Regions from separate parts of the Homo sapiens genome. Here regions 1, 2, 3, 4 and 6 are each linked to region 5. The links come from fine-mapping of genetic effects on gene expression. A gene starts in region 5. Each other region holds a variant in brackets. All regions are shown on one strand. Distances are from middle to middle. Region 1 overlaps ACTN4 (actinin alpha 4). Region 2 overlaps ACTN4 (actinin alpha 4). Region 3 overlaps RYR1 (ryanodine receptor 1). Region 4 has its middle 6.3 kb from the start of ACTN4. Region 5 holds the start of CAPN12 (calpain 12). Region 6 overlaps ACTN4 (actinin alpha 4).

The links.
Region 1: its variant is fine-mapped to the expression of CAPN12 in whole blood (INTERVAL, PIP 0.99).
Region 2: its variant is fine-mapped to the expression of CAPN12 in whole blood (TOPMed, PIP above 0.99). The same link has a PIP of 0.9 or more in T cells and blood mononuclear cells.
Region 3: its variant is fine-mapped to the expression of CAPN12 in whole blood (TOPMed, PIP above 0.99).
Region 4: its variant is fine-mapped to the expression of CAPN12 in whole blood (TOPMed, PIP above 0.99).
Region 6: its variant is fine-mapped to the expression of CAPN12 in whole blood (TOPMed, PIP above 0.99).

Annotation. Positions count from the first base shown.
Region 1 is chr19:38,685,891-38,689,890 of GRCh38, reverse strand. The region is part of intron 1 of ACTN4 (actinin alpha 4); the gene reads right to left. Among named protein-coding and RNA genes, the nearest start is that of ACTN4, 40 kb to the right of the region's middle. RefSeq lists an enhancer at 3,856-3,915. The variant G/TTG (reference allele first, on the strand shown) is at 1,501.
Region 2 is chr19:38,705,280-38,709,279 of GRCh38, reverse strand. ACTN4 (actinin alpha 4) reads right to left here. Exons shown (of 21, transcript NM_004924.6): 5 at 3,149-3,236; 6 at 1,085-1,163. All of the region lies in intron 1 of LOC107985291 (a long non-coding RNA gene), which reads left to right. Among named protein-coding and RNA genes, the nearest start is that of CAPN12, 37 kb to the left of the region's middle. RefSeq lists enhancers at 690-1,476, 3,896-4,000. The variant G/A (reference allele first, on the strand shown) is at 1,936.
Region 3 is chr19:38,562,504-38,566,673 of GRCh38, reverse strand. It overlaps RYR1 (ryanodine receptor 1), which reads right to left. Exons shown (of 106, transcript NM_000540.3): 91 at 903-1,715. Among named protein-coding and RNA genes, the nearest start is that of MAP4K1-AS1, 32 kb to the left of the region's middle. RefSeq lists a silencer at 993-1,062. The variant G/A (reference allele first, on the strand shown) is at 1,971.
Region 4 is chr19:38,639,219-38,643,388 of GRCh38, reverse strand. No RefSeq gene overlaps it. Among named protein-coding and RNA genes, the nearest start is that of ACTN4, 6.3 kb to the left of the region's middle. RefSeq lists an enhancer at 2,786-3,724. The variant C/T (reference allele first, on the strand shown) is at 2,480.
Region 5 is chr19:38,742,860-38,746,932 of GRCh38, reverse strand. It overlaps CAPN12 (calpain 12), which reads left to right and starts at 2,459. Exons shown (of 21, transcript NM_144691.4): 1 at 2,459-3,004; 2 at 3,831-3,900. The coding sequence starts at 2,768.
Region 6 is chr19:38,695,634-38,699,633 of GRCh38, reverse strand. The region is part of intron 1 of ACTN4 (actinin alpha 4); the gene reads right to left. Among named protein-coding and RNA genes, the nearest start is that of CAPN12, 47 kb to the left of the region's middle. The variant A/T (reference allele first, on the strand shown) is at 1,816.

The DNA of each region.
Region 1 (4,000 bases), 57 kb after region 5:
CTCTCATGGCCAACATGGTGAAACCTCGTCTCTAACTAATAATACAAAAAGTAGCCGGGCATGGTGGCGCACGCCTGTAGTTCCAGCTACTCAGGAGACTGAGGCAGGAGAATCGCTTGAACCCGGGAGGCAAAGGTTGCAATGAGCCAAGATCGCGCCACTGCACTCCAGCCTGGGCAACAGAGCGAGACTCCATCTCAAAGAAAAAGAAAAAAAAAATTAAAAATTAACTGGGTATGGTGACTCTTGCCTGTAGTCCCAGCTACTCAGAAGGCTGAGGTGGGAGGAACACTTAAGCCTGGGAATTCGAGGCTACAGTGAGCTATGACAGCGCCACTGCACTCTAGCCTGGGCGACAGTGAGACCTTATCTCAAAACAACAAAACAAAACAAAAAACCAAAAATACAAGGAACATGTCTACCACCGCAAAACTGGTACAGTTACTCTCCAACCCCACTTCCCTCCTACCCAGCCCCCAGCCCCTGGCAACCACTAACCTACCTTTCTTTCGTCTCTTGCAATTTACCTATTCTGGGCATTTCATATAAGTGGAACCATATGGTATATGATCTTTGAGTTTGGCTTCTCCTTAGCATGTTTTCAAGGTTCAGCCATGTTGTAGCATGTACCAGTACTTCGTTCCTGTCTGAATAACATTCCATTGTATGGATATACCACATTTTATTTATCAATTCATTGGCTGATGGGCATTATTTGTGTTGCTTCTATCTTTTGGATATTAGCACCACCGTGAATATTCATGTACAAGTTTTATGTGGACATGTTTTCAACTGCCTTGGGCATATACCTAGGAGTAAAATTGCTGAGTCATATGATACCTCTTATATTTAAAAATTTGAGGAACTTGGCTGGGCGTGGTGGCTCATGCCTGTAATTCCAACACTTTGGGAGGCTGAGACAAGACCAGCCTGGGTGACATGGTGAAACCCCGTCTCTACTAAAAATACAAAACATGTTTAAATTTTGAGGAACTGCCAGACTGTTTTCCCAAGAAGCTGCACCACATTACACTTTGACCAGCAATGTGAGGGTTCTGATTTCTCCCATCCTAGTCAATACTTATTATCTGACTTTCTGATTATAGCCATCATGGTGGGTGTGCAGTGGTATCTCATTGTGGTTTTCTGTTTTTTTTTGTTTTAGGGTTGGGGTCTTACTCTGTTGCCCAGGCTGGAGTACAGTGGTGTCATCATAGCTCACTGCAGCCTTGAACTCCTGGGCTCAAGCAATCTGCCCACCTCAGCCTCCCAGGAATATGCTACTACACCTGGCCAATTTCTCATTTTTATTATTATTTAGAGACAGGGTCTCACCCTGTTGCCCAGGCTGGAGTGCAATGGCGTGATCTCGGCTCAATGCAACCTCTCCCACCCAGGTTCAAGCGATTCTCCCACCTCAGCCTCCCCACTAGCTGGGACAACAGGCGCCCACCACCATGTCCAGCTAATTTTTGTGGGTTTTTTTTTTTTTTTTTTTTT[G/TTG]GTAGAGACAAGGTTTCATTCACCATGTTTGCCAGGCTGGTCTCAAACTCCTGACCTCAGGTGATCCACTCGCCTCGGCCTCCCAAAGTGCTAGGATTACAGGCATGAGCCACCATACCCGGCCTAATTTTTTATTTTAATTCTCTGTAGAGGCAGGGTCTCACTATGATGCCCAGGCTGGTCTCCAATTCGTGGCCCCAAGCCATCCTCCCACTTCTACCTCCAAAAATGTTGGAATTATGGACATGAGCCACCAGGCCCAACCACGTTATGGTTTTGATTTGCCCTAATTAGTAATGACATTGAACACCTTTTCATGTGCTTATTGACCATTTGTAGTGGTTATGGTTTTGATTTGCCCTAATTAGTAATGACATCGAACACCTTTTCATGTGCTTATTGACCATTTGTAGATCTTCTTTGGAGAAGTGTCTATTTGAATCCTTTGCCCATTTTTAACTGGTGTGTCTTTTTACTGTTGAATTTAAGAGTCCTTTATACATTTTGGACAGTAGACCCTTATCAGATATACAATTTGTAAATATTCTGCGGGTTGTCCTTTTACTTTAATAGTGTCCTTTGAAGCAAAAAGTTTCCAGTTTTGAAACAGTCTGATTTATCTATTTTTCTTCGGTTGTGTTTCTGCTGTCATATCTAATAACCATTGCCTAACCCAAGGTCATGAGATTTACACTTGTGTTTTCTTCTAAGAGTTTTACAGTTTTAGCTCTTACATTTAGGTATCTGATCCGTTTGGAGTTAATTTTTGTATATGGTGTGAGGTAAAGGTTCAACTTCATTCTTTGCAGATGGGTATCTATTAATAGTTGTTCCTGCACTATTTGTTGAAAACACTATTCTTTCCCCCATTGAATGGTCCTGCACCCTTGTTGAAAATCAATTGACAATAGATGTATGGGACCTGGGAGCTTTTTAAAAATACCTGAATTTCACCACAGGCAAAATGAGACAGATTCCCTCAAGGTGGGCCCTGGGCAATGACATTTGACAAAGTCCACCTAGTGAGTCTAACATGAAGTGAGGGCTGAGAGCGAACAATCTAATCCAACCCCCTTGTTCCATAAATGAAAGATCTGAGGTCTCAGTAGAACCAGAGGGGCTGGGTGCAGGGGCTCACGCCTGTAATCCCAGCACTTTGGGGGGGCTGAGGCAGGTGGATCATTTGAGGTCAGGAGTTCAAGACCAGCCGTCTTGAACTATTAGTAGAGACCAGCCGTCTCTACTAATAATACAGAAAAATTAGCCAGACGTGGTGGCACACGCCTGTAATCCCAGATACTCAGGAGGCTGAGGCAAGAGAATCGCTTGAGCCCAGGAGGCGGAGGCTGCAGTGAGCCGAGATTGTGCCACTGTACTCCAGCCTGGGCAACAGAGTGAGACTCTGTCTCAAAAAAAAAAAAAAAAGAGACTCTGCCACCAGATTTGTTAGACTGGAATGGATGCTTGGAGCTAAAAGAAACCCCAGGGTAAAGGGGGATAGGCGGCCCGGGGTAGGAGCTGCTCCCATCTGAGCCTGCCTCTGTTCTCAAACAGACTTCCGGAGCCATCCCACACATGGGAAACCAACCAACCAACCAACCAACCAACCCAAACCACTCAGATTATACGTCAAAGAACTGGGTTCTCCCCAAGGGGAAGAGCCTGCACTCCCCACACAGAGTCCAGGAAGAGATAGGTCTCAACCCAAGGCAGGTGGGGCCCACAGAGCGGGAGGCAGTGCTCAGCCCTCCAGGCAGAGCTTCTCACCAGGAGGAGGAGATGGTGAGGCCTACCTTGAAATAACTACCTTTAACAGAGGAAACTTACACTCCCAAAAGGCAGTTTTAAAATTAGGGCAGCAGCAGAGGCTGGGGCCTCCTCTGGCCCCATCTAGCATTTTGCTATGAAATGATCAGGCACACGGGGCCCTTCACCTGGAGAACAGGGAGGGTGAGCTACAAACACCCCATTTACTTTCAATGCTTACAGCTAAGCTCAGGTTTCAGGGTGGGGGTGGGGGACTACAGATCATCTGGTTTAAACTTTGATCTTTCAAAAAGATAGCCAAGTAAGCCAATTCTGGCCTTGAGACAGTGTGGCCTGGAATCTTAGCGAGTGCCTAAGGGGCCCAGTCTTTAGAATTAACGTTTTAGTCTGGACAAATCCGCCCAGGGATTTGTTCATCCAGACAAGAGGCCTTTGGCATTTGGGGAGAAAAGGTCAGACAGGGCACTGATGGGATTGTTATTTAGGCAAGTGCTACACACCCGTCCTGAGCTAGTGGGACCCCGGGAATTCCCCAGTAGATCTTGCCAGGTGCAGGAACTGCCACAGGAAAGGGGTGTCTGGAAGCAGGGCAAACACTCCTGTTTCTCCCTCTGTTCAATCTCTCCAGCAGATGGCTTGTTTTTTTGCTAGTATTCAAATGATCCGTAAACTGGGCCCTGCTGGTGGAAGGGTGAATATGCGAGGCCCTGGAGTAATCTTTAATCGTGGTAAG
Region 2 (4,000 bases), 38 kb after region 5:
TTCAGGCAGTTCTCAGCCACGTGTGATGTGTGAGCGGGAGGGCACCGCCTGGATAAATTCAATTCCCACTCACAGGAGTGCCTCGTGAAATCTTTGTGGGGCAAACCAGGGCTTTTTCTCCAGAAAAATGCAGGTGTACTCTTTTCATACAATTTCCAGCCACCCACAGACCCTAGCTTAAGCCCCTTGCCCTAAAACCTGGTTTTCACATTGACTGGAAGATGTGGGCCAGGCCTGAGAGAGCACTGGGGACTGGGTAAGGGGAGCAAACCGAGAGGTCCCAGGTCCCAACCACCCTAAAGTGTCCCCCAGCCCCCTCACAGGCTCCCCACTGCTTACAGGACTAAAGCCCACTGCACTCCAACTCTCCCTGGCCGGGGCCCAGCTCTCTTGCTCACTGTGGCTGGAACGGGCTGGGTGCCATCTGGTGCCTCCCCCAGGAAGCCCTCCTCTGGCTCTAAGCTGCCTCTTCTTCCGGGACCTTTCCTGGCTCCTGCTCGCTCGGGGTACACTAGCCTCCTCCGCAGCACTGATCTGACCCCATGCCCTGCCACCCCATTCAGCCTGAGCACATGTACACGGCCTGGTGTGGTGCTTTGCTTTGGACACAATTTTTGTCCTGCCTTCCCCCACGAGGCTGGCAGCTTCTGGTGGCCAGGGCCTGGATCCATACAGGCTTTGTACAGGCAAATGACAGCAGGACCCTGCATGGGCAACATGGGCTTGTGGTGATGGTTTGGAATTCCTTGCCCTCTGCCCCTTTGGGCAGAGGAGGTTCTAGAATCCAGAAGATTGAGGAAGGGGAGTTATAAAGCATGGCTGGCCAGGCCCTTAAATAACCCCGGGTTGGTTGCAGTGCCATGGAGGGAGACTGGACAGTCCACGAGGGGAATAAGGGAGGTGAGAGTCAGCCACCGAGCCAGGGGTTGCGGAGAGCCTGCACAAGGCTCTCCCAGGCTGCCCATCTGCGTGCAGAACCCAGATCTGGAGGCTGGCGATGGAAGGGCATGGGGATGGTGACCCGGAGTTAGGGGGTCAGACAGGGCACGTCTGTGGGCCATCAAGGGGAGCTGGAGACACTCACCTTCCTCAGCTTGTCATACTCAATCAGCTCTGGTCTGTGCCGGTGGATCAGGGCATTGAAGGCAAGACCATCCTTCCAGCTGGGGAAGGAAAGGCAAAGGTTATAGGAGGGCCCGCTCACTGTCATGAGAGTGCCGTATGGCCCTGTGCACCCACAGCAGTGACTAATTCCCATTCACTGCAGTCTGGCCTGTGCCAGGCACTGCATGGAGACAGTGTGGCAGAGAGGCTGCAAGCATGACCTCTGGGGCCAGGCAGTCTGTGATCAAATCCTGACTCTTCTGCCTACTGACAGTGTGACCTCGGGTAAGCCAGGCTATCTCGGTTTCCACATCTGTATGATGGGGATAGTGACATACCTGCTACATAGGGCTGTTGTGCGGATTAAATGAGTAAATGCTTGGATCAGTGCCTGACTCCTGACAACTGCTTTATAACTGCTAGCACCTTCCATGGGAGGCCGCCCTGAACCAGACAGGCCGCTTCGGGGGAGGTGGCCACTGCAGGATGCTGGTGTTTGTGCTGTGTGGCCTCCACACCCTGGCGGACCTGACTTACAGGAAGGCCAGTCCGTGGGCTGGCTAAATGCCAGGATTTCACTTGGCATGCTGGTCTCTGGAGGAAAGAGACCTTCCCCAAGGCCACAAGTTGGTCAGTTACAAGCTATATGGGTCACATTCTCCTCCCTGAGACCCTCTAAGGGTTGGTTCCCTCTGAGGTCAAGCTCGATGTCACCTCCTCAGAAAGGCCACCCAGGGAACTTTCTTCATCTGACTTCCCTGTCTTTGTGCAGCACTTCTCACTGAAGTTATGCTGCAGGATTACTGGCCGCTGTGCTAACAGCTGGTCCCC[G/A]CGCTGTGGTGTAAACTTCCCACAAATGGGAACTTTGTTTGGGTGCCACTGTATCTCCACTAACGGCATGCAGCGGGCATGCTAGATACTTACTAGTTGAAGAAAATGAATGGAAACTATAGAAAGATTCAGTCAGTTAGTGGCAGGAAAAAAAAGAAGACACACAGAGAAGAGTGACCAAGGGAGGGACCACATGCTATCAGGGTGAGCACGATGGGAAAAGCCCTCTGTACCCAGCAAGGGTCCCAGAGAGCCTGAGGCCGCTGCAAACCCCATGAGGCCCTGCTCTTCATTCCTGTGCGGGCCATCCAGGAGACTCAGAGGGTGGAGCCACAAGGCAAACCGGATCTGACCTCAGGACCGCCCCCAGAGCCAGTGCTCCCAACCACCAGGCAGGCCTGCCTCTTGCCGCCCCCTGGACCTCATGCGGCAGTGCCCATGCTCGCCTCAGCTACGGGGATGGTGGACATGTCTCATCTCCCGCTCACCCTGAGGGAAGCAGGTTCATGGTGGAGCTGAGGCTTGTTCATCTTAGCAGCCACAGAGTACATTTTTCCCCAACACTAAATTTACTAGCAATTCTAAAAACAATTCACTCCTGAGCTGTCAAAATAAAGGAAGAGGCCAGAGGCAGGCAGTGGCTCACATCTGTAGTCCCAGCACTTTGGGAGGCCGGGGTAGGAGGACTGCTTGAGCTCAGGAGTTCAAGTCCAGCCTGGGCAACATAGGGAGACCCTGTTCCTACTAAAAATAAAAATTAAAAATTAGCCAGGTGTGGCTGCATGCACCTGCAGTCCCAGCTACTTGGGAGGCTGAGACAGGAGGATCACTTGAGCCTAGGCCAAGGCAGCAGGGATGAGTGATCACACCACTGCCCTCCAGTCTGGGTGACAGCACAAGACCCTGTCTCAAAAATGAAAAGCTTTATTGTTGCTTCTGAGAGTCACCTTGCCTGGGGACGAAGAACGTTCTATTAGGCCGGCGAGAGGGCTGACCTTACTGCCTTCAGCCAGGATGGCTGGGAAACTGCCTCCTCTTCCTCAGAGAGGACCAGGTGACCTTCCCATGGGCTTGTAGGGCCCGTGGCCAGGGAGGGGCTGACTGAGGGCTGGCATCTCACAGACCACGACAAAAACACAGCAAACAGGGCAGGTGGGAGGAAGGATCTCAGGTTCCTAGAGGAAAGGAGAGGATGACCAGGACTGGCGCTTACCTGATGTGGAAGTTCTGCACATTGACGTTCTTATACGGGGCTGTCTTTCTCTGGCACCAGAGAAGGAGCCCTTCCTTGGCCGAGGTCTCTGCAAAACACACAAAGACAGTGAGCACTGGCTCAAAAATAAACCCTCAGAACTCAGCCCAAGTTGGATGGGACTTTCGGCTCAGGCCTGGGGTCAAACGAAACCCAAGGGGAGAGGATATCTGTCCTAACAACAGCAGCAGTGATAGCAGCGGGACAGCCACTCCCATTCCGGATGCAGACGGATGCTGCCAGGCCCAACTGCCAGGACACACGGCCCTGCTTAATCCTCACGGCCCCGAGGAGAGTCGCTTGACCAGGGCTGCCCCAGGAGGTGGTGGTGTCAGGGCCTGAATCTGTGCCATGTGCCTGGCCACCAAGCCTGTGCCTTTCACCACCAGAACACACTGCAGACAGGCCCTTGATACCGGCCTTGGCCTCTTTTGAACAAGGTGAAATACCAGCTGTAGAGAGGCCTAGGGGGCCCTTCTGTTCCCCGTGGATAGCTCGGCTGTCCTCACAGACCGGGAGCCCTTCGAGGGCAGGAAGCACATCTCTCCCAGTCATCACTGCGACCTGGCACCTGGGAGCCCCTGCACGCTAGCCCAGGTGGCTCTGCCCATCCTGTGTGCACACAGGTGCTTGCAGGGAAGCGAAATTGTCCATTCCTGGACGGCCTGAGCTCATAACGGGTCCATGGGGGCCAAGTTTCAAGGATGGGGATGTCAAGCAGACAGAGAACCAGGCCCAGGCCCAACTCTCTCACTAGTCTGTTCTGGGACTTGGGTTCCTGGACTGTAAAACGGGCCCAGCCATCCTAGCCCA
Region 3 (4,170 bases), 180 kb after region 5:
CTCTGCTTGTCCCCAGGGCTTCCCACCACCTTGACCTCCACATTCCCAAGGCATTCCCAGCACCAAGGGCCTGAGGATGTTTGGGGTCCCTTCCTCCACGGTGTACTTCATTCCCACAACGAGTATCTCCGAGGGTCTTTTCCTAGTGGCCCTGACCCTGTCTCGGGACTTTTTTTAGTCTTGGTCTTTCTTTTCCTTTTTTTTTTTTTTTTTTTTTTTTTTTTTGAGACAGAGTCTCGCTCTGTCGCCCAGGCTGGAGTGCAGTGGCACCATCTTGGCTCACTGCAACCTCTGCCTCCCGGGTTCAAGCGATTCTCCTGCCTCAGCCTCCCGAGTAGCTGGGATTACAGGCGCACACCACCATGCCCGGCTAATTTTTATATTTTTAGTAGAGACGGGGTTCCACCACGGTGGCCAGGATGGTCTCAAACTCCTGACCTCAGGTGATCGGCCCGCCTCGGCCTCCCAAAGTGCTGGGATCACAGGTGTAAGCCACCGCGCCTGGCTTAGTTTTGGTCTTTCCTGCCCTCTAATTTGGTCTCTGGGTTTCTTACTCTCTCTGGCTCTGCAGGTATCATTTTCTCTACCTCTCCGGGCCCTGCACTCTGTCCGGCCCTGCACTCTGTCCGGCCCTGCACTCTCTCTCCCCGGCCCTTTCTCCAGGTCTCCATCTCTGAGTCTCTTTCTCTGTGGGTCTGAGTATCCCTCTGTCTCTGAGCGTCTCTCTTGCCCGGCGCCCGCTGTCCCCGTGTGCGTCCTCCATGGGTGCGTCCTCCGTGGGTGCGTGTGCCCATCCCCCTAGCCAGTTCTCTCCTCTGTGTGTGTCTCCACCCAGCCGGGCTCTCTTCCTCCCTCCAATCCCCCATCTTTCCAAAACCCCAAAACCCCGCCTGCTCTCTCACCCCCAATTTCCTCTTGAGGATGGGAGAGCCCTCGGGTGTGGGCGGTTCCGCAGGCGTCGTGTCCCCCATGTCCCCGAGACCGCCAGCCCCTTCGGGCCGGAAGGGGCCCCCATCGGTCACGGCCACCGCCCCGTCGGCACCGCCCGGCCCGGCCTCGTGCACCGCCTCCTCCTCGTCTCCAGCGCCCTCCGCGGCGTCTCCAGCGCCCTCGCTGGCACCCTCGCCGTCTGCGTCTCCGCCCGGCCCGGCCGGCTGCTCGCCGTGCACCTCGTCGCTGGTGGGGTCGGGCATGCCTGCCAGGAGCTCGGTCACCGTCACCTTCTTGGCGCCCTCCACCAGGCCGCCGCCGAACAGCGAGCCCCAGAGCAGGCCCAGCGCGCCCGCCGCCGCCCCCGCGCCAGCGGCCCCAGCGCGCGTCACTGCTGCCCAGAGCAGCGCCGCCACTGCGGTGGCCGCCTCGCGGGCCGTAAGCCGCCGCAGCCGCCGCACGCGCCGCCGCAGGCTGCGGTAGCTGAGGCCTCGCAGGGCCCGGCCTGCGGCCGCCACAACCCGCGCCGTCGCCCCCGCCGCCGCCGTGGCCGCCGTGCCCTCGAGCCCCGCCGCGCCCTCCTCCGCGCCTTCCGCGCCCGCCTCCGCCGCGCCCGCGCCCTCGTCCTCGTCGGTCTCCGGCTCGCCCTCGGGCTCCGAGATCTGCGCGGCGATCTGCATCTCGAAGATGGTGTCCTCGCAGAAACTCACGAAGAGCTCCATCTTCTCAGCCTCGCCGCCCTCGTTCACCACGTCGAAGATGAACTGGCGCTTGGACTCCTTCACCTGAAGCGAGGGGCGGCAGACAGGATAGGGCGCCGTCAGCGGGGGCTCGGACAGCAGCGACAGCGCAGTGGCAGCTACAAGGGGTCACCGCGGCAGGCGCTGTTCTAAATGCATTGTTGGTATTTTGTTTTTGAGACAGGGTCAGGCTGGGCGCGGTGGCTCCGCCTGTAATCATAGCACTTTGGGAAACTGAGGCTGGCAGATCACTTGGGGTCAGGAGTTCGAGACCAGCCTGGCCAACATGGTGAAACCCCC[G/A]TCTCTACTAAAAATGCAAAAATTAGCCGGTGTGGTGGCGCACCCCTGTAATCCGTTACTCGGGAGGCTGAGGTAGGAGAATAACTTGAACCCGGGAGGCGGAGGTTGCCATGAGCTGTGATCGTGCCACTGCACTCCAGCCTGGGCAACAGAGTGAAAGTCTGTCTCAAGAAAAAAAAAAAAAAAGACAAGATCTAGCTCTGTCTCCTAGGCTGGAATGAAGTGACGCTGTCTCACTGTAACCTTCGTCCCCAGGGTTCACATGATCCCCATGCCTCGGCCTCCTGAGTAGCTGGGATTACAGGCGCCTGCCACCATGCTGGGCTGAGTTTTTGAATTTTCAGTAGAGACAGGGTTTTGCCATGTTGGCCAGGCTGATCTGGAACTCCTGGCCTCAAGTGATCTGCCCGCCTCACCCTCCCAAAGTGCTGGGATTACAGGCATAAGCCACCATGACTGGCCTGCTAATTTCTAAAAAAAATTTTTTTGCAGAGACAGGGTCTGTCTGTGTTGGTCAGGCTGGTGTCGAACTCCTGGCCTCGAGCAATCCTCTGGCCTTGGCCTCCCAAAGTGCTGGGATTACAGGCAGGAGCCACAGCGCCTGGCCAAGTTGTTGTTTTGATTATCAATAGCAAACCTATAGAGAGAGCTTTATAGAGAGCACTCACTGTGGGTACTCCTGTAAATGCTTCAATAAGGCCAGGCCCCATACAAGCAGTTTCCATAAAACTCATTTAATCCTCACAAACAAGCCTAGGGCTAGCGGGTTTTCTTCCCATTTTATAGATGAGGACAGGGAGGCCCAGAAAGTTACATGCCCAGGTGACACAGACAAGGTGGCACATATAGGATTCGAACCCCCAGAGAGCTGGCTCCAGAATGGATGTGTTTAGCTTCCTTGAGAGGAGGAGCATAGTGCTTAAAGGCAAAGGCTCTGCAGCCAGCCTGCCTGGGTTCAAATCCTGATTCTGCCACTGAGTAGCTGGGTGATTTTGAATTAACTCTCTGGACCTCCGTTTTCCCCTCTGTAAAATGGGCATAATAGGACCTACATTATAGGGTTGGTGTGAGGGTTAAATGAGTTAATAGATGCTGCATGATTAGAACAGCGCCCGGTGCCTGATAAATGCTGTATAGTGGGCAGGCCACGGTGGCGCACACCTGTAATCCCAACACTTTGGGAGGCCGAGGCGGGCGGATCACCTGAGGTCAGGAGTTCAAGACCAGCCTTGCCAACATGGCAAAACCCCGCCTCTACTGAAAATATAAAAATTAGGTGGGCATGGTTGCACATGGCTGTAATCTCAGCTACTCAGGAGGCTGAGACAGGAAAACCGCTTGAACCCAGGAGGTGGAGGTTGAGTGAGCTGAGATCGTGCCATTGCACTCCAGCCTGGTCAACAAGAGCGAAACTCTGTCTCAAACAACAACAACACCGTAGTGTTACCTATTATTATACTGCCCCACAGGTGCTCCAAGGCCACATGGGCATACGTGGATGCCTGAGAAGCAGGGGAAAGTGGAATGGGAAGGGGTGAGCAGAAGGAAGCGGGTGTTTGGAGGAATAGCACTAAGGCAAAGAGTGTTTGTATGGGGAGCACGCAGGGTCAGAGGAAGAGAGGAGGGCAGAGCTCCCCCAGCACGTGCAAAGAATGAGTGGGAAGGGCCGTGGTGAACAGGGGCTTCCTGCAGAGGCAGGGATGTGTGGACATCCTGGGTGCCAGGATGCTGCAACCACTTGTGTGCCAGATGGGGGTGTGTATGCAGTGGGGCCCCGAGGGGCACAGATGAGTGTGCAAGATCTCAAGGGTTCCTGCGGAGTATGTGAGGAGACACCGGGGGCCAGGGAGGGATCAGGAGTAAGGAGGGCGTGGCGGCATGGGAAGATGCCAAAAGTGTGCAACCACGAGAGGCTCAGTGTGCACGGTGGACGTGGGCACACGGGGCAGGTGTGCAAGGGCCTGGGACTCTGTGGGGGGACAGGAGGAGTATGAGTGTGAGAGGGGCCTGCAGTTATGCAGTGTGCGTGAGGCAGGCATGAATGTGGGAAGGGGAGCCAAGGGTTTGTGTACTGGCTCCCAGAACATGAGGACAGGGCTCTGTGTGGGACATGAGCCCGCGTGCATGAGCTGGTGTCCCCTGAGGAGACATATGAAGGGCCCACTCATGAAGGAGGTGACGGGTGCGCAAACCTCCCGGG
Region 4 (4,170 bases), 100 kb after region 5:
TGCTGTCCCTCAAGCACACCAGGTGCCAAACTCAGCCTCTGATGAGGCCTTTGTACTTGTGAGGTGGAGTCACGACTCCCAGGAACACTTTCCCCAGACACTGAGTCCCTAGGGCTCACAGCCCCATTTCCTATAGGTCTCTGTGGAAATACCACATCCTCAGTGAGACTTTCCCGGATCACCTGATTTAAAATATCATCCCATCGGGCATGGGATGTTCAAGGCCAGCCTGGCAAACATGGTGAAACCCTGTCTCTACAAAAAATACAAAAGATTAGCCAAGTGTGGTGTTGCATGCCAGTGGTCCCAGCTACCTGGAGGGCTGAGGCAGGAGGATCACTTGAGCCCAGGAGGTCGAGGTTGCAGTGAGCTGAGATCGCACCACTGCACTTCAGCCTGGGTGACAAAGTGAGAACCTGTCTCAAAAATATAAATAAAATAAAATATTGCCAGGTGCGGTGGCTCACGCCTGTAATCTCAGCACTTCCGGAGGCCGAGGCAGGCGGATCACAAGGTCAGGAGATCGAGACCATCCTGGCTAACATGGTAAAACCCCGTTTCTACTAAAAATACAAAAAATTAGCTGGGTGTGGTGTCACGCGCCTGTAGTCCCAGCTACTCAGGAGGCTGAGGCAGGAGAATCACTTGAACCCAGGGGGCAGAAGTTGCGGTGAGCTGAGATCGCACCACTGCACTCCAGCCTGGGCAACAGAGGGAGACTCTGTCTCAAAAAAAAAAAAAAAAAAAAAAAAAACCAACCACCATGGTTTATGGTTTCTCCAGCTATGGGAGTTGCAAGGATCCTTCTCTGCTTCTCTGCCTCTGCCAAAGGAACGCGAAGGGATGGATCCAGTGACAGCAGAGGAAGGGGACGAGGCCCAGGCAGCAGCCCGATGTCCTAGGAGATGCCAGGACCTGGCCAAAGACCCCCAGGCGTGTTGGCTGTTTCCAGAGCTGGGCTGGAGTGGGGCAGGGCAGGGCGGTCTCCTCCAGCCTGACTTGAAGAACTAGCTCAGGACTCTTATGCATGGTCTGGCCTGGGGGAAAAACTCCTCAGGGGATGGGCCATCTGCCCCTCGCTGCAGCTCCTGGTGGACTCTGAGAAACCGTCCAGACCAAGTGCTCCCAGATGGAGGCGACAGCCCCAGCCATTGAAGTTTAAATTAAAGCCTCCCTTTAATTGTCAGCCTTGAGGCTACTTCCTGGCAGCCATCTATGGGCAGTGTAGTAATAATAGCTGATGTGTCTATTGATGTCCAAGGGACCAGGAGGGGCTCTGAGAGAAGGGGTATGGCCAGTGGGCCCTACAGGCGTTTTTAGGTTTACCATTGAACCCGTGAGACCTCAGTCAGAATTTATTAAATGCTGTATCCCATTGTTAACACTACTTCAGGGAAGGCAACTAGAGAGGGTGTGTCCTCACAGGGCGGGGACATGAACAAATACTGCAATGTCTAGAGATGTCTCAGGAAGCAGCTGGAGCAGCAGCCCTGAACCCCAAGTGAGCATGACAAGCACCCACCAGGATGGAATTTGGAGACAGAACCAATTTGAGTTTCTTTTATTTTTATTTATTTATTTATTTATTTTGAGATGGAGTCTCGCTCTGTCACCCAGGCTGGAGTGCAGTGGCACAATCTTGGCTCACTGCAACCTCCACCTCCCGGGTTCAAGCAATTCTCCCACCTCAAGTGTCCTGAGTAGCTGGGATTACAGGCACGCGCCACCAGGCCTGGCTATTTTTTTTTTTTTTAAGACAGAGTTTCGCTCTTGTTGCCCAGGCTGGAGTGCAATGGCGCGATCTCGGCTCACCCCAACCTCCACCTCCCAGGCTCAAGTGATTCTCCTGCCTCAGCCTCCCGAGTAGCTGGGATTACAGGCGTGCGCCACCACGCCTGGTTAATTTTGTATTTTTAGTAGAGACGGGGTTTCTCCATGTTGGTTAGGCTGATCTTGAACTCCTGACCTCAGTTGATCCATCCGCCTCGGCCTCCCAAAGTGCTGGGATTACGGGCATGAGCCACTGCGCCCCGGCTATTTTTTAATTTATTATTTATTTATTTATTATTAGTTTTTGAGACGGAGTCTCACTCTGTTGCCCAGGCTGGAGTGCAATGGCATGATCTTGGCTCACTGCAACCTCTGCCTCCCGGGTTCAAGCGATTCTCTTGTCTCAGCCTCCCGAATAGCTGAGACTACAGGCATGCGCCACCACACACAGCTAATTTTTGTGTTTTTTAGTAGAGATGGGGTTTCACTATATTGGACAGGCTGGTCTTGAACTCCTGACCTCATGATCCGCCCACTTCAGCCTCCCAAAGTGCTGGGATTATAGGAGTGAGACACCACGCCCAGCTTATTTTTTTGAGACAAGGTCTCACTCTGTCGTCCAGGCTGAAGTGCAATGGCGTGATCTCAGCTCACTGCAACCTCCACCTCCCTGGTTCAAGCTATTCTCCTGCCTCAGCCTCCTGAGTAG[C/T]TGGGATTACAGGCACCCGCCACCAAGCCCAGCTAATTTTTGTATTTTTAGTAGAGGTGGGGTTTCACCACGTTGGCCAGGCTGGTCTCGAACTCCTGGCCTCAGATGATCCACGCGCCTTGGCCTCCAAAGTGCTGAGATTACAGGCGTGAGCCACTGCACCCACCAAGCTGTTCTAAACTCTTTGCAGGCATTAACTACTGACGTGGGTACAATTACTACTTTCCCCAGCTGTAAAACAGGTACAGAGAAGACAACTCACATACCCTGAGGCGGCTGGGCTGGGGAGTGAACTCAGGCAGTTTTTCTCCAGAGCCACCTCCTAGCTGTTCGGAGTATGAATGACCCTCTGATAGTGAAAGCAGCCCAGTGAGGCAGGATGAGATGTGGCTCCCAGAGGAGGGGAAAAAGGTCATTTCCTCTTCCCTTGCAGAGCAGCCATGGCCAATTGTGCAGGTTGTATCCTGCATAAGGGCACCTGCCAAGTGGGTAACTGGGAGTTGTCCCCACCCAGAAGGGGTGCCTTTTGCTAATGTGCCCAAGTTCATGGGTGGTAGAGGCATCCCAGTCCTTTTTATTATTATTTTTTTGAGGCAGTTTCGCTCTTGTTGCCCAGGCTGGAGTGCAATGGCGCGATCTCGGGTCACTGCAACTTCTGCCTCCCGGGTTCAAGCGATTCTCCTGCCTCACCCTCCCAAGTAGCTGGGAATACAGGCGCCCGCCACCACGCCCGGCTAATTTTGTATTTTTAGTAGAGACGGGGTTTCACCATGTTGGTCAGGCTGTTCTCAAACTCCTGACCTCAGGTGATCTGCCTACCTCGGCCTCCCAAAGTGCTGGGATTACAGGCATGAGCCACTGTGCCAGGCCTCCCAGTCCTTTTTATCCCAGTGAGCTGCAGAGGCACACTTTTGTTCAGTCCCCAGGATTTAGGCACTCCCTGGCTACTGGGGCCCTGCTGAGGTCTGGGCCCCAGGGCAAGGGGTGTCTGCTCCCACAGGCAGGGCCCTCTGAGGAATGCTGGCTGTGAGTGCACACAGGGAGGTCAGGCCGGCTGGCAGCTTGGGTACCACAGCTGCCCTCTCCAAGGCAACGCTTATGCACACCAGCATCCATCAATAAATCACCAAGGGGCAGCTGCCAGTCTACTCTAAGTAATGAACATCTATTAGGGCATTTCTTTTCCTTTTTTGGAGACAGGGTCTTGCTGTCACCTGGGCTGGTGTGCAGTGGTGCAATCATAGCTCATTGCAGCCTCAAACTCCTGGGTAGCCAGGACTACAGGCACATACCACTGTGCCTGGCTAATTTTTACTTACTTACTTTTTTTTTTTAATTTATTTTTTTGAGACGGAGTCTAGCTCTGTCGCCCAGGCTGGAGTGCAGTGGTGCGATCTCAGCTCACTGCAAGCTCCGCCTCCCGGGTTCATGCCATTCTCCTGCCTCAGCCTCCAGAGTAGCTGGGACTACAGGCGCCTGCCTAATTTTTTTGTAGTTTTAGTAGAGACGGGGTTTCACCGTGTTAGCTAGGATGGTCTCGATCTCCTGACCTCGTGATCTGCCCACTTCGGCCTCCCAAAGTGCTGGGATTACAGGCGTGAGCCACCGCGCCTGGCCAACTTACTTATTTTTGAGACAGGGTCTCACTCTGTTACCCAGGCTGGAGTGCAGTGACGCCATCTTGGCTCACT
Region 5 (4,073 bases):
AGACAGAGTCTTGCTCTGTCAACCAGGCTGGAGTGCAGTGGCGGCTCACTGCAAGCTTCGCCTCCTGGGTCCACGTCATTCTCCTGCCTCAGCCTCCCGAGTAGCTGGGACTACAGGTGGCCGCCACCATGCCTGGCTAATTTTTTGTATTTTTTGTAGTAGAGATGGGGTTTCACCGTGTTAGCCAGGATGGTCTTGATCTCCTGACCTCGTGATCTGCCTGCTTTGGCCTCCCAAAGTGCTGCTGGGATTACAGGCTTGAGCCACCGTGCCCGGCCTTTTTTTTTTTTTTTTTGAGATGGAGTTTTGCTCTCTTGCCGAGGCTGGAGTGCAGTGGTGCAGTCTTGGCTCACTGAAACCTCCACCTCTCGGGTTCAAGCGATTCTCCTACCTCAGCCTCCTGAGTAGCTGGGATTACAGGTGCGTGCCACCACACCCAGCTAATTTTTTTGTATTTTTTAGTAGAGATGGGGTTTCACCATGTTGGCCAGGCTGGTCTGGAACTCCTGACCCGCCCGTCTCGGCCTCCCAAAGTGCTGGGATTACAGGCGTAGTAAACTACCGCGTCCAGCCTAATTTTTGTATTTTTAATAGAGATGGTGTTTCACCATGTTGGCCAGGCTGGTCTTGAACTCCTGGCCTCAAGTGTTCTGCCCACCTCAGCCTCCCAAAGTGCTGGGATTACGGGCATGAGCCACCATGCCCGGCCCTGTTTTGGGGGGTTTTTTGAGATGCAGTCTTGCCCTGTTGCCCAGGCTGGAGTGCAGTGGCACAATCTCGGCTCACTGCAACCTCCGCCTCCCAGATTCAAGCGGTTCTCCTGCCTCAGCCTTCTGAGTAGCTGGGATTACAGGTGCCCGCAACTATGTCCGGCTAATTTTTGTATTTTAGTAGAGACGGAGTTTCACTACATTGGCCTGGCTGGTCTCGAACTCCTGACCTCAGGTGATCTGCCTGCCTCGGCCTCCCAAAGTGCTGGGATTACAGGCATGAGCCACCACGCCCAGCCAGAAAGCCTGTTTTGTAACCCACTTTTGGTAGCCGTGTACGTGGGTGGCTTGGACAATATTTGTGGGTCCACTTGGAGGGAAGAAGGCCAAAAGGCTTGAGGGACATCTGAGTGGCGTGGAGGTGACAAGGCTCTGGGAGGGCAGCAGACACCCTCAACGAGGGTGGAAGGTCTGCTGGGACCAGCACTGCTGAGGCTCTGGCATCTCCGTACCTGTTTCTCCCATTTCCTCCAATGGCTCCAGAGTCCTTTGGGGGAAATACTGCTCCATCCAGACTCTGAGTGGCGTGGGCCAGGGCAGGGCATCATGGTCACCAGATGGCTCCCAGCACAGGAGAGGTACAGAGCCATCCCTCCAGGGTCAGCCTCCCTGGGCAAGCAGGCTGAGTCTACCTTGTCCGGGAGGGGAGGAGGCGCATCCTGAGGGCTTAGGGGGCGTGAGCGGAGGGGAGCTCAGGGTCCCTCGGTGGATGATGGAGGAGCCACATATGGGTTACAGGGACAGACAGAAAGATGGAGAGGAAGAGACAGGGAGGCAGACACAAGGTACACTGACAGGGTCTGAAGGAGGAGGGGCTGGGGGCCTGGACTCCTGGGTCTGACAGGTACAGAGAGGAACAGACACACGCTGAAAGAGACACAAAGAGAGAGGGGACAGGCATAGTGATTCACGCCTGTAATCCCAACACTTTGGGAGGCCAAGCGGGGAGGATCACTTGAGCCCAGGAGTTCGAGACCAGTCTGGGCAACAAAGTGAGATCCCCGCCCCATCTCTACAAAAAAAAAAAAAAAAAAAAAAAGAGGGTGGGGTGGGGAGAGGGGTGGAGTTGGGGAAATACAGAGACACAAATATTGCCAGAAACAAAAAACAAGAAAGGGCCAGGCACAGTAGCTCACATCTGTAATCCCAGCTCTCTGGGAGGCTGCTGAAGCAGGAGGATCACTTGAGGCCAGCAGTTCAAGACCAGCCTGGGGAACATATGGGACCGCCCCCCGCCACCCCTCTGTCTCTACTTTAAAAAAAATTTTTTTTAATTAACAAAACCTGACCAGGCACAGTGGCTCACGTCTGTAATCCCAGCACTTTGGGAGGCCAAGGTGGGCGGATTGCTTGAGGCCAGGAGTTCAAGACCAGCCTGGTCAACATGGTAAAATCCCTTCTCTAACAAAAAATACAAAAATTAGCTGGGCATGGTGACACGAGCCTGTAATCCCAGCTACTTGGGAGGCTGAGGCAGGAGAATCACTTGAACCTAGAAGGCGGAGGTTGCAGTGAGCTGAGATCGTGCCACTGCACTCCAGAAACTGATGGAGAAGAAACATGAAGGCGGGGAGAGAGAAACTGTCAGAGGGAGGGGGAGAGAGGCAGTCTGAGAGATAGAGACACCGAGGTAAACCCGCCTCCTTCCCCAGCCCCACAGGCATAAGTAGGCAGAAGCTCACCCCCACACTGACCTCCTTCTTGGTGCTCTGACAGCGGCAGCCGGTCCTCCCTCAGCTCTGCCCGCCTTCTCTCCTGCTGCTGGCCAAGCCCATTAAGCTGCTACCTTGGCCACAACTGAAGGCCCCACGCCCTGGGAAGAAAGCTACTGAAGAGGCGTCCCTGCTCCCCAGCACCCCAAACCATCAATTAATATTAACGAGGGAAGGCTCCTCATTGCCTAAAGACCCCACTGGGGCTCCAATGGAAGAGAGGCCCCGCCCCCGTGACTCAGGAGGTTAAAGGGCCTGGTGCCGGCTTGTGAGGCCAGTGTCCAGATGGCATCCAGCAGTGGGAGGGTCACCATCCAGCTCGTGGATGAGGAGGCTGGGGTCGGAGCCGGGCGCCTGCAGCTTTTTCGGGGCCAGAGCTATGAGGCAATTCGGGCAGCCTGCCTGGATTCGGGGATCCTGTTCCGCGACCCTTACTTCCCTGCTGGCCCTGATGCCCTTGGCTATGACCAGCTGGGGCCGGACTCGGAGAAGGCCAAAGGCGTGAAATGGATGAGGCCCCATGTAAAGTGTGGCTGGGGTCTGGGCTCTGGGGTCTGAGGGAGGAGGGGCTGGAGGCATGGACTCCTGGGTCTGAGGAAGGAAGGCTGGGGGCCTGGACTCCCTGGTCTGAGGGAGGAGGGGCTCGAGACCTGGACTCTTAGGTCTGAGGGAGGAGGGGCTGGGCCTGGACTCCTGGGTCTGAGGGAGGAAGGGCTGGGCCTGGACTCTTGGGTCTGAGGGAGGAGGGGCTGGGGACCTGGACTCCTGGGTCTGAGGGAGGAGGGGGCTTGGACCTGGACTTCTGGATCTGAGGGAGGAGAGGCCAAGGCCTGGACACCTGGGTCTGAGGGAAGAGGGGGCTGGGGACCTGGACTCCGGGGTCTGAGGGAGGAGGGGCTGGACCTGGACTCCTGGGTCTGAGGGAGGAGGGGCTGGGGACCTGGATTCTTGGGTCTGAGGGAGGAGGGGCTCGGGACCTGGACTCCTGGGTCTGAGGGAGGAGGGGCTGGGCCTGGACTCCTGGGTCTGAGGGAGGAGGGGCTCGGGACCTGGACTCCTGGGTCTGAGGGAGGAGGGGCTGGGCCTGGACTCCTGGGTCTGAGGGAGGAGGGGCTCGGGACATGGACTCCTGGGTCTGAGGGAGGAGGGGCTGGGCCTGGACTCCCGGGTCTGAGGGAGGAGGGGGCTACCATGGGACTGGCTCAGCACAACTTCTGGAGACCCAGGGAAGCCATGCTCCTGCCCACAGGCTTCCAGGCCTTTCATGGGCTTGGAGGCCCTCACTCCTCTGGATGAGACCTTTCCTCGCTTTCTCAGGCTGAGGCCTGGAATCCCCCACCACCCACAGGAGTTCTGTGCTGAGCCGAAGTTCATCTGTGAAGACATGAGCCGCACAGACGTGTGTCAGGGGAGCCTGGGTGAGACCCTGAACCCACCTGGAGTCCTCAGATCCAGCTAGTTTCAGCTGAGATCCTGACAGCTCCATCCCTTTGTCCACCCACTCCCGGCCCCTGGATCCCTCCTCAGTCTCTTCTCTCCCTAGGCCTCTCTCTCCCTCCTCCCTCCTTCCTTCCTTCCTTTTTTTTTTTTT
Region 6 (4,000 bases), 47 kb after region 5:
ACGGGTGTATGCCAACATGCCCATCTAATTTTTGTCTTTTTAGTAGAGATGGGGTTTTACCATGTTGGCCAGGCTGGTCTTGAACTCCTGGCCTCAAGTGATCTACCCGCCTCGGTCTCCCAAACTGCTGGGATTACAGGCGTGAGCCACCACACCCAGCCCTATCCTTCCTATTTTTAAGACTCAGTGCAGCTTAGAGGAGGCTGGAAGGCAAGTGGGAGGCAGGCCCCCTCACCGGGGTCAGGCAGCCGCATCTAAGGAGAATGTTTCTGATGATCAACTGGAAGGGATGGAGGGTACTAAACAAGAAGCCGAAGTCCCTGACCCTAACAGACCAACGATGCTGACAGGGCATGGGTACACCCAAGCACAGGGCACGCAGCCTCCTGGTGGTGCCCGGCTACTCAGCCCCCTGCAAGCTGGGGCATGCTCATAGACATCAGGGCCACAGAAGATCTCAGATCAGTTAACACCAACACGCCCAGGCGCCTTCAGGGAAACCAGCCCACGCACCCTCCTGCAACAGGACCTGGGAAAAACCCCAAGTGTCTGCTTCTTATAGGAACCCCTGTACCCCACCCCCTCCATCTGCAGGGGCCAGTGTAGAAGCAAGCAGACAGCCAGGGACACACAAGAGCACATTCCACGCCCCGGGTGCAGGCGGAGGCCATGCGGAGGACAAGGGGCTTCTACGGGGGCTCTGACCAAGCACCATGTGTTTTGACAACTGTCGCCAGCCCTGCTCATTCAGGGAGACTCGACACAAAGCCCCCTCCCAGACAAAGCAGCTGCCTAATTAATACGCCATACCAGTGTGGACCCAGCATGGGGCTTCCTTCCAAATCCGAAAGGGGGCAAGAGTGGACAGCTAGACCATCCCCCACCACCACCTCTCACCATGGAGAATTCCTCTACCTGGGAGACAGAGACCCCTCCTGGTGGCACAACGCTGTTCCCCCACTAAAGATACCTCCGCCCCGCCATGTAGCCAACCCTGGGCACCCCTCAAAAGTCAGGCCAAATGCCGTGCCTGGAGGGTACCCGCACCATGGCCTCCCTGACCCGGTTCTGCCTCAGACAGCCTCCTCCCTGCAGACCACATCACGCCCTTGCTCTCTGGTCTCTAACAGTTCTTGTCTCCAACAGTTCTTGTCTCCCTCCCTCCCACGGCTATGAACTCCTTGAGGGGAGGGGAGCCAAGGCAGGTTCTCACTGCGGAGAGTACTAACTCACCTTCCCAGCCTCCCCCATACAATACTGAATTCAGAGAGCCCAGGGCGGGAACCATGCTTACACCACTCATGTGGGCACGTCACCTAACCTTCCTAACTTCCATTTCCTCCTCTGCAACGTGGGGATGAAGACCCCACCTAGGCCACGGGCAGTGTGAGGACTCAAGATGGCCATGCCTGCAGCGTGCATGGCAATGCTCAGGAAGTGGCAGCTCTCTGGATGGCCCTGTGCCTCCCAGCATCTCCTCCCTCCCTGCCCTGGTCTCAGGAGTCCTGCCCACCCCCTCCACAGTGTGCCTGCTCTGTCCCCGGCCCACCCTCAGCACCTCTCCCGTAGCAACCCCCAGTCACTTTTAGTCTTATTGGATGTTGCATGCACATGAGCTTTCTCTCCTACCATGTGCGAGCTCCAGGGGTTGGGAAGTACGGCGCCTGCACCTTTACAGCCCCAGAGCACTGCCAGCCTTGATGGCAGGCAGCAAGCAGGCGTGGAGCCCAGGAGCCCAGCAGCCCTGCAGAGCAAAGGGCAGCAGCAAATGGGCTGGGAAGGAAGTGGCCACGGATGCTAGGCCTCTACTCTCAC[A/T]TGTGCCTGAGAGCAGGCACTGCTGGGCAGCAAAGTAGCCAAGACACATCCCACAGCCTGAGGACAAAAGAGGGCTGTTCCCCGAGGGCAAGGCCCCGTGCTCTGGTGTTGCCAGGCCCAGACCTAGGCACCTGGGCTGCAGGGAGGGCCACGCACGCGTGCAAACAGCACCCCTCACAGCCTTGGCCTGTGTGGGCTGCTCCTGCAGGCTCTGCAGGGGCACAGACCTGGGTTTGGGTTTGAATACCTGCCCCTTGGCTTACTCATTCCATGTTTTCAACCAAGTGACTTTACCTACTTAAGTCTGTTTCCTTCCCTGTAAGATGGATTTATCAGAATCTACCTCCTGCAGTGTGCTCTAAGAATTAAACTAGGGAAAATACATTTAAAGCATGTGACAGGCTCCTTGGCATAAAGTAAGAGCCAGATGAATCACACGCATGTGTGTGCATGTACACACGCACATAAGCACGTGCTGAGATCCAGTCTCTTCTCTGCAAAGGCTCTCAGACCACCCACTGGTATGCAGGGAAAATGGGATGGCAGGAGACCCTCTGCGGATGGCCCCACCCCACCCTGTGGAGGCTGTGAACAAACCTCGCCGCTTGGGTTCTGGCCACCTGTCCTCAGAGGGGCTGCTGCCCTACCCGCCCTCCATACGTACATCCCACCTGTGCTCATCTTCTCTGGGTAGTAAACAAGAGCTCTGGCTTGGGCATCACACAGGTGCGGATTCACATCTTGCTTCTGCCACTGAGGCCTCAGGCAAGCAATAAGCCTCAGTTTCCTCACTGATAAACAGGACAGTAACCGAGAGGTTAAGATAGGGATTAAACACAAGGACACATGTCAATCACTCCGTGCTGTGTTAAATGCATGTCAAAGGAAGGTTTGCTCTGAAAGCAATGGTAACTCTTCCGTGTACTCTGTCTTCCTGACTGACACAGGCAAAGCCCCAAGCACAGGTGCTCAGGGAGGATGCCCACTCGCCTGGCCTGGATGACGCAGAAGGGAACTCCCACCCAGATCCGGACCTGACACAGGCTTGGGGAACCCCACTGATGCACTCCTGTTCTCACCCCATGTCTTGCTTTGCCCTGTTTTGTCCTCCTGGAAGATGAGGGGCATCTATTGACATCAGAGGTTCACAAAGCCCTCAGCTCTGGTGAGGAGAGCCTGCACTCACAAGGCCACCCTTGGGAACAGGTCGACCATGACGGCCACTTCTCCATGCGGAGAGACTGGTGAGTAGGAGCTGGAGTTCGAATGGGACATTAAAAATTCATCGCTTCTTCTACTTGGTTACAAAAATAACACTCTGCTTCCATCCTTCCTCTCCCTACCCGGTTTAGACTACGCTGCGTGGGGTGGATGGTGTGGAGAGGTGGTTTCTATAGATGGGGGCCCTATGCGCCCACCACGCCGCCCTCCACCATGCAAAATTCTCAGAATGTGGGCAGCCGACCTCATGATGCCCCAGGCCACCATGGGTCCGTACATATTCATTCTCTGGACAAGCATATGCTGGGGGTCAGCAGAGGGCCAGGCCCTGTGCTGAATCCATAACAGTGAGCAAAAGCAGACACTCTCATGAGGCTCCAGGTCTGATCTCATTAATCAAGCGATCAGTCCACTCCAGAAATAACGCCCTTAGGAAAAGTGGTAATAATAACAGCAATAACTGCAGCAGACACTTCCATAGAGTCTACTAGGGGCGGGCACTGCTCGAGGCACTTGGTCACTTACTAATTCTGTCACCCTCGTAATCATCTCTGGAGGGAGGTGCTAGTACTGCCTCCATTTTGCAGATGAGGAAACGGAGGGCCTGAGAGGTGAAGTGGCTTGCTCCCATCAGTCACACACCTAGAAAGTTACAGAGCTGGGTTTAAAGCCAGGTGCTGGGCTCCTGGGGCCGAGTTTGTGTCACCTCCCCTGGGATGGGAGCTGAAGAGTGCGGTCAGCATGGTGGCGGGGTGGGGGGGCACCAAGCGACTGGTGAGGCAGACACAGAAAGGTGTCCTTGAAGAAGTCATTCTCAAACTCTGAGCTGAAGGATGAGGAGTTAATAAGATAAAAATGAGGGAGACCTTCCAGATACTGGGAAGAGCATGTGCCAAAGCCCTCCTGCAGAAGGGACAGAGCCCACTCCGAGAAGGAAGGGAGTAAAGAAGTGAGGCTGGCATGC